Regions from separate parts of the Homo sapiens genome. Here region 2 is linked to region 1. Evidence: fine-mapped expression QTL. Tissue or cell type: whole blood. Region 1 holds a variant in brackets; the other region holds the start of a gene. All regions are shown on one strand. Distances are from middle to middle. Region 1 overlaps LOC124902986 (a long non-coding RNA gene). Region 2 holds the start of PLXNC1 (plexin C1).

Region 1 (2,906 bases):
CTTTTTCCCAATCACTTGCATTTGTATTTTGATTATAAGACAAGCAGAGCCTATATCCTATTCTATTACAGCTATTTGTGTGGTTTTTTTCCTTGACTTTGAATTTTTGGAGCTGGCATCTCCAGAGTCATGCCAGGCAATTAGCAGGTTCTTAATAAACCTTTGCTGAATCGAAGGGAATTCGGAGAAGTATTGCTGATGAGGGAGGATACAGAAAGGGATTTTTCTATAAAGCCTGACCAGCAGTGTTAAAAAAGTTTTCCACCAATAACATTAATAATGGATTTTTTAAAAGAAACAAGCTTTTACAATTTGCAAAGTACACGGAAGAAGTCTACTAAAGAGGCTCTCAATGAGCAGTGTAAAGGTCAGAAATAAACAAAATTAAGTCTGCCAGAAGTCTGAAAATTGTCACTGTGCTATTATTGATGAAATTACTAATTCCAATAATAATCGTGGCCATTATTGCATAGTGACTTGTGCAGTTTCTTCATCTGTGAAATAGGGACATGAATAGACCCTCCATCCTTGGGTGGTTATGAGGATTAAATGAGTTAATGCACATAACACACTTCCAGTAGCACCTGGCACATGAGAAGTGTTAGTTATGCCAGGTGTGGTGCTGAGTGCTTCTCGTACTTTACTAGTGGAAATAACAAAGAAGCCAGGATGAAGCGAAACCTTAGGAGCTGGGAAAAAGGAGAAGGGTCGAAACTTATGTTCTAGAGTTTTCATGTCTTAGTCTTTGTATGATTGTTGCTGCTGCCTGGCGCAACCTTCCGCAGGCTGGCTCCCTCTCATCCTGCAGGTCTCAGCTTAAAAGCCCAGCTCAGACATGCTTTCCCTCACTCACAGTCGAAAGTTGCGTCCCCTATATTATTCCCTCTTTCCACACAGTGTTTCTCTTTAGAACACTTAACACTGTGTGTAATTGCATAGGAATAGTTTATCTAGCTAGTGAATTCTCCAACACTAGCCTGTTCACTCCACGAAGGCTAGTTGTGTTTACTGATTATCCTCGATTCCTAGCAAATTGCCTGGCACATACCAAATGCTTAATGAATGAAATGAAACTGTACCTGTTGTAAAAAATGAATGAATAAAAGTATACCTGTTGTAAACAAATGGAATAAATGAATGTATCAGGGTTCCCATTATACCCAAGGTCACTTCCAGGCAGCATGGCATCCTCTTGCTCTACAAGATACTTCTCTTTTGAAAACACATCAGCACTTAGAAAAGTGACCCTACTCCAAACTTTGTAATTTAACACTGGATCCTCTGATAGCTTCTTCCAGGATCCTAAAGTTTGTGTGTCCCATCTCCAGAGAATGTTCAGCCACTCCTACATCACTATATACTTCCTGATTTTCATCAGGCTTACAGAGACAGGGGTGAGAAAGTAGGGTAAAGTTACTCTGATAGTAGCTGAGATATGAAAGTGGAGGAAGGGAAACTATAGAATTTGAGAATTCACTGCCCTTTTACTAAGAAACACTTCTTTTTTTTTTTGAAACTTCTAGGGTGGCAGGAAGTGCATGCCCAAACCTCAGAGT[C/T]TGGGGCAATCAACAGTACCCTAACCTCCCTGAACAGGTTCAGACACCCAGGGCTGGGTATAGGAATAGCCCAGATGTTTTTAAAGTTAAGACCTGAAGTGGAGAAAAGGAAAAAATGAAGAAAGAGCTCCAGCTCCACAGGGGATGTCCTGGGATTAGTAGGGACAACACAAACAGAGCTCAGGGAAGGAAGACAGAGAGAAAGGGGAGGGGAAGTTTTTTGTTTTCAAAGTGTAATGTAGAAAAAAAAATAGCTCTGGCTGGGCGTGGTGGCTCATGCCTGTAATCCCAGCACTTTGGGAGGCCGAGGCGGGTGGATCACTTGAGGTCAGAAGTTCGAGACCAGCCTGGCCAACATGGTGAAATCACATCTCTACTAAAAATATAAAAATTAGCCAGGTGTGGAGGTAGGTGTCTGTAATCCCAGCTACTCCTGAGGCTGAGGCATGAGAATCGCTTGAACCCGGGAGGTGGAGGATGCAGTGAGCCGAGATCGCGCCACTGCACTCCAGCCTGGGCGACAGAGTGAGACTCCACCTCCAAAAAAAAAAAAAAAACTCAAAAAAAACAAAAAACAAAAAACAAAAAACAAAAAAACCCCACAAAACTCCTCACCTTAAACTGACCAAGAAGAAGCCAGACTACTACTTCCACTTTTATGTTGTGGCTGGCAGACCACAAGGAGCCTGCTCTGGAGAGGGCGGAGAGGGAAAGCCCAGCTGCTGCTCACTCAGCCCCTTTTTGACAGAAGACTTGTCCCCAGATCAGGGATGACCAGGGAAGAGATCAGTGGACAGGGTAAATCCACAGCCATTTGATGTAGGGACATTTTAATTTGGGAAATCAAATGCAGGAAAGATATTACCTTACTGTTCATTTCAAGCATCTCACACACACCATTAAATGCCCCAAACCAGGCTACTATTGAACCTTAACCACATACAAATGACATATTTACCCAAATACCCCAACATGCTAACAATCCTTTCTGGGTTGCATGTAGCCCAAACTGCCCCTGTGTGTGAATTACAAAAGGCACACTCCCACCCCTTCTTCAAGACACTTGGCTTACTTCTGTTGGAAAATTGTTGTCATGGGCTGATTTATTAGAATAAGACACATGACTATCATCTGCCAGAAAACTATCATAATAAATATACAAACTAACTGTGTTTACTATCAATGATGGTCCTTTAGATGTGGTGCCCTTGTGCAGAAGTCAGTTTGAAATAGAGAAGTTTGAAATAGTTGTATCAAGGCCATCAAAAGCTTAACTTCCTTGTCCCAGTATCCTTATTAATGCTTTGCAAAATCATGATCCTTAATGCATTTCTCGTCTTGCTATGGTCA
Region 2 (2,906 bases), 24 kb before region 1:
CCGCGCTGAACACTCCCGCCCAGACGTCCAGGGCCTCCACTAGGCTGGAGGAGAGGAGCAGGCGGCGGCCGTCGGGGTGGCCGTGGCCGCAGTCGAGGGATGCCTGGCCCTGGAACAGCACCTCGGTGCTCTGCGCGATGCGCGCCATGCTGGGCCAGCCGGTGGCAGCGCCGCTCGTGTAGTTGTAGGGGTAGTAGGGGAAGTAGATGCTGCCGTTCCAGAGAAAGGCGTCCACGAAGTGCAGGCTGCCCGCGCCCTCGCACAGCTTGAGGCGCCCCAGCTCCTGCGTGGCCAGGCTGCGCCCCTCCGTGTCCTTGAGCGCGATGGCCGTGTCGTGGTCGGATGCCGCGGGGTTGCAGCGGCTCGCCGTCTCCGGCTCAGGCAGCACGTAGGTGGCGGCCACCGCCAGGTACCAGCGGTTGTTCCGGCCCGCGCGGTACACCACGCCGGCCGTCGAGCCCTGCGGGTGGCACGACACCACCTCGGTGCCGTTGCGCAGGGAGTTGCGGCTCAGGTTGCCCAGGGGCCGCACCTCGCAGGCGCCCCGGTCGAAGGTCCAGCCGGTGAGCAGCAGCCCCCCGAGGCCGGCCGCCCCCTCGCGGTAGGGCAGCAGCAGCTTGCTGAAGCTGCTCCCGGGCCGGGGCCGCGCGGGGGGCGCCAGCGAGACCGGCTCTGTGCAGTTGCCCGCTTGGTCCCGGTACAGGCGCGAGAGGCTGTGCTCCAGGCTGTAGTCCAGCTGGTCCAGGCAGCTGCCGCTCGCCACAAACACGCCGTCCTCCTGGCTCGCCGCGATGGCTCCGATGGCTTGCTCCGACCGCCACACGGGCTCGTCCGCGCCCCGGCCGGGAGCCGCCAGTGCCAGCAGATAGGCGAGCAGGGGCAGTGGCGCTGCGGGGCGCGGGGGGCGCGGCGGCGCCTTCCTCCGGGAGACCTCCATGGGGCTGGGGGGGCCGCCCCCGGGCAGGGCGCGCGGCGGCGACGGCGGCTCAGGCGCGCGGCAACGGAGACGCGGGCGGCGGCGGCGGCGGTTCCTGCGCGCGCTCGGGCTCCCGCGGCCGCCCCATCCCCGCAGCTCGCCCAGGAAGGAGAGCGGGGAGGGCGGCGCGCGGCAGGCTCGCTCCGGCAGCCTGTGCAGCGGCGGTGGCGGCAGCAAGCCCTGCGCGCTCCGGCACCGTTTCCTCCTCGCCCTCCTTCGCCGGAGAGTTCCTGTGTGCAGCGCTGGCGCTCGCGGGGAGGCGCGGAGGGGAAGGGAGGGGACGGGCGGAGAGGAGCGAGGCGGGCGGGGAGGGCTGGAGAGGTTGGGTGCGCTTGTGCGTTTCACTTTCCCATTGTGAAAGTGGGATGCAACTGGCCCCCTTCCTCATCCTCTCTTCCTCCTCCGCCCTCCGCCTCCTGCCCGCCCGCCCGCCCTCCCTCCACGCCCATCTCCCCTCCCCTCTTGATTCGGTGAGATAGGGAGGAGGGAGGTCTCGTAATTTGGGTTACTGTGTAGGTGGCCTCTTTCATCTATTCATAACAAAGCTCAGCCGCCCGCCGCGGCCGCCGCGGCCGCCACCATCGCCCCCTTGGCTCGCCTGGGGCTCCCGGGGCGCGCTAACGGCGCACGGAGCGGGCTCCCGCGCCCGTCCGCCCGCGGTGCTGCTCCAACGCCCGGTTTTGTTTACGACAGCAGCCGGGTCGGGGATACGCCAGGCGCGCGGAGCGAGGATCCAGGGTGCGAAGGGGTTGCAGCTGAGGCCCCGGGCTCGGGCCACAGGGCTGCTGCGAGAGCGGCTGACAGGTGTGGAGCGGCGAGAGGGAGGCCCCGGGGAGGCGCGCGGGAGACATGGCCGAGCCGGAGACTCCGGGGACCAAGGCGCCCCTGTGACAGGGTGTGGGTTTCCCCGGGTCGGATGAGTGAGGTGGCAGAAAGGCAGGCGCCACACTCTCGTTCTGGACAATCCCCAGGGCCGGAGCGCCCATATTTGCAAAGGTTCTCTAATCTCCCTTGGCAACAGAGTCCCAGGCTCTCAAGCCTAGCACTTGGAAAGTTCTGCTCACCATCTAACCTAATGAGCGGGGCTAACATTTACTGAGCACTTACTACGTGCCGGGTGCGCTTGTGAACTCACCACATGGGTTAAGACTCATAATTCTCATAACAGCCCTATTAATTAGTGACTGTTATTGTCATCCCTACTTAGTAGTCCAGGAGAATGGTTATAGAAAGGTTGTGGAACGTGCTGGCATTCTACTGCTGGTAGATATCAGAGCCGAGATTCGAATCCATATCTAGCCCCAGGGCCTCTTACATACCTGGCTCTAGTTAAGTGCCACCTGTGGCCATTGCCATAATCCCCCAGAGATCATTCTCTGTAGTGAGACTGAAAAGTTCCTCAAGTTAAATGCACCAACCAGCCCCCGCCCTGCTTTCTACTATTAGACCCAAGTCCCCGTATTTCCCTCGAGGCTCTCCATCTGTCTCATCATTACCCACTTTTATCCTTTGGACCCCCTGAGGTCTCACCACCTCACCCAGAGGGTGAATAACAGCTGGGTTGCCCCCACAGCCGCCAAGAATTTCTGAAGCACAGGGAATCATTGCCCACTGGGGAATAGGTTCATGATTTCTCGGAATGGGGCTTCCCAGAGGATGCACAAATGCCTCCCAGCTTCCCGGGGCAGCTGCGGGCACCATCAGCACCCTTACAGTCTGGCAGATGAGCCAGGGGGTGCATAGGAGTGGAGGGTGCTGAGGACCTCTATGGATCGTTGGGAAATGATCTCTGTTCCTTCCCAGGCTATTTCCAGACCCCAGGCCCCAGGGAGGGCAATTGGCTGCTATCCCCTTTCTTCCTTCCCTCCAAGTTCCCCAGCTCGAGATGCTGTTTTGGGAAGGGAAAGGAATGAGGTGGCTTTTGTCCCAT

What was found. PIP is the estimated chance that this variant, and not a neighbour inherited with it, causes the effect.
Region 2: it holds the start of PLXNC1, and the variant in region 1 is fine-mapped to the expression of PLXNC1 in whole blood (TOPMed, PIP above 0.99).

What each region holds. Positions count from the first base shown.
Region 1 is chr12:94,122,679-94,125,584 of GRCh38, reverse strand. The region is part of intron 1 of LOC124902986 (a long non-coding RNA gene); the gene reads right to left. Among named protein-coding and RNA genes, the nearest start is that of PLXNC1, 24 kb to the left of the region's middle. The variant C/T (reference allele first, on the strand shown) is at 1,557.
Region 2 is chr12:94,147,003-94,149,908 of GRCh38, reverse strand. PLXNC1 (plexin C1) reads right to left here and starts at 1,332. Exons shown (of 31, transcript NM_005761.3): 1 at 1-1,332. The coding sequence starts at 937. RefSeq lists an enhancer at 206-305 and silencers at 506-745, 876-1,105, 1,176-1,425, 1,436-1,565.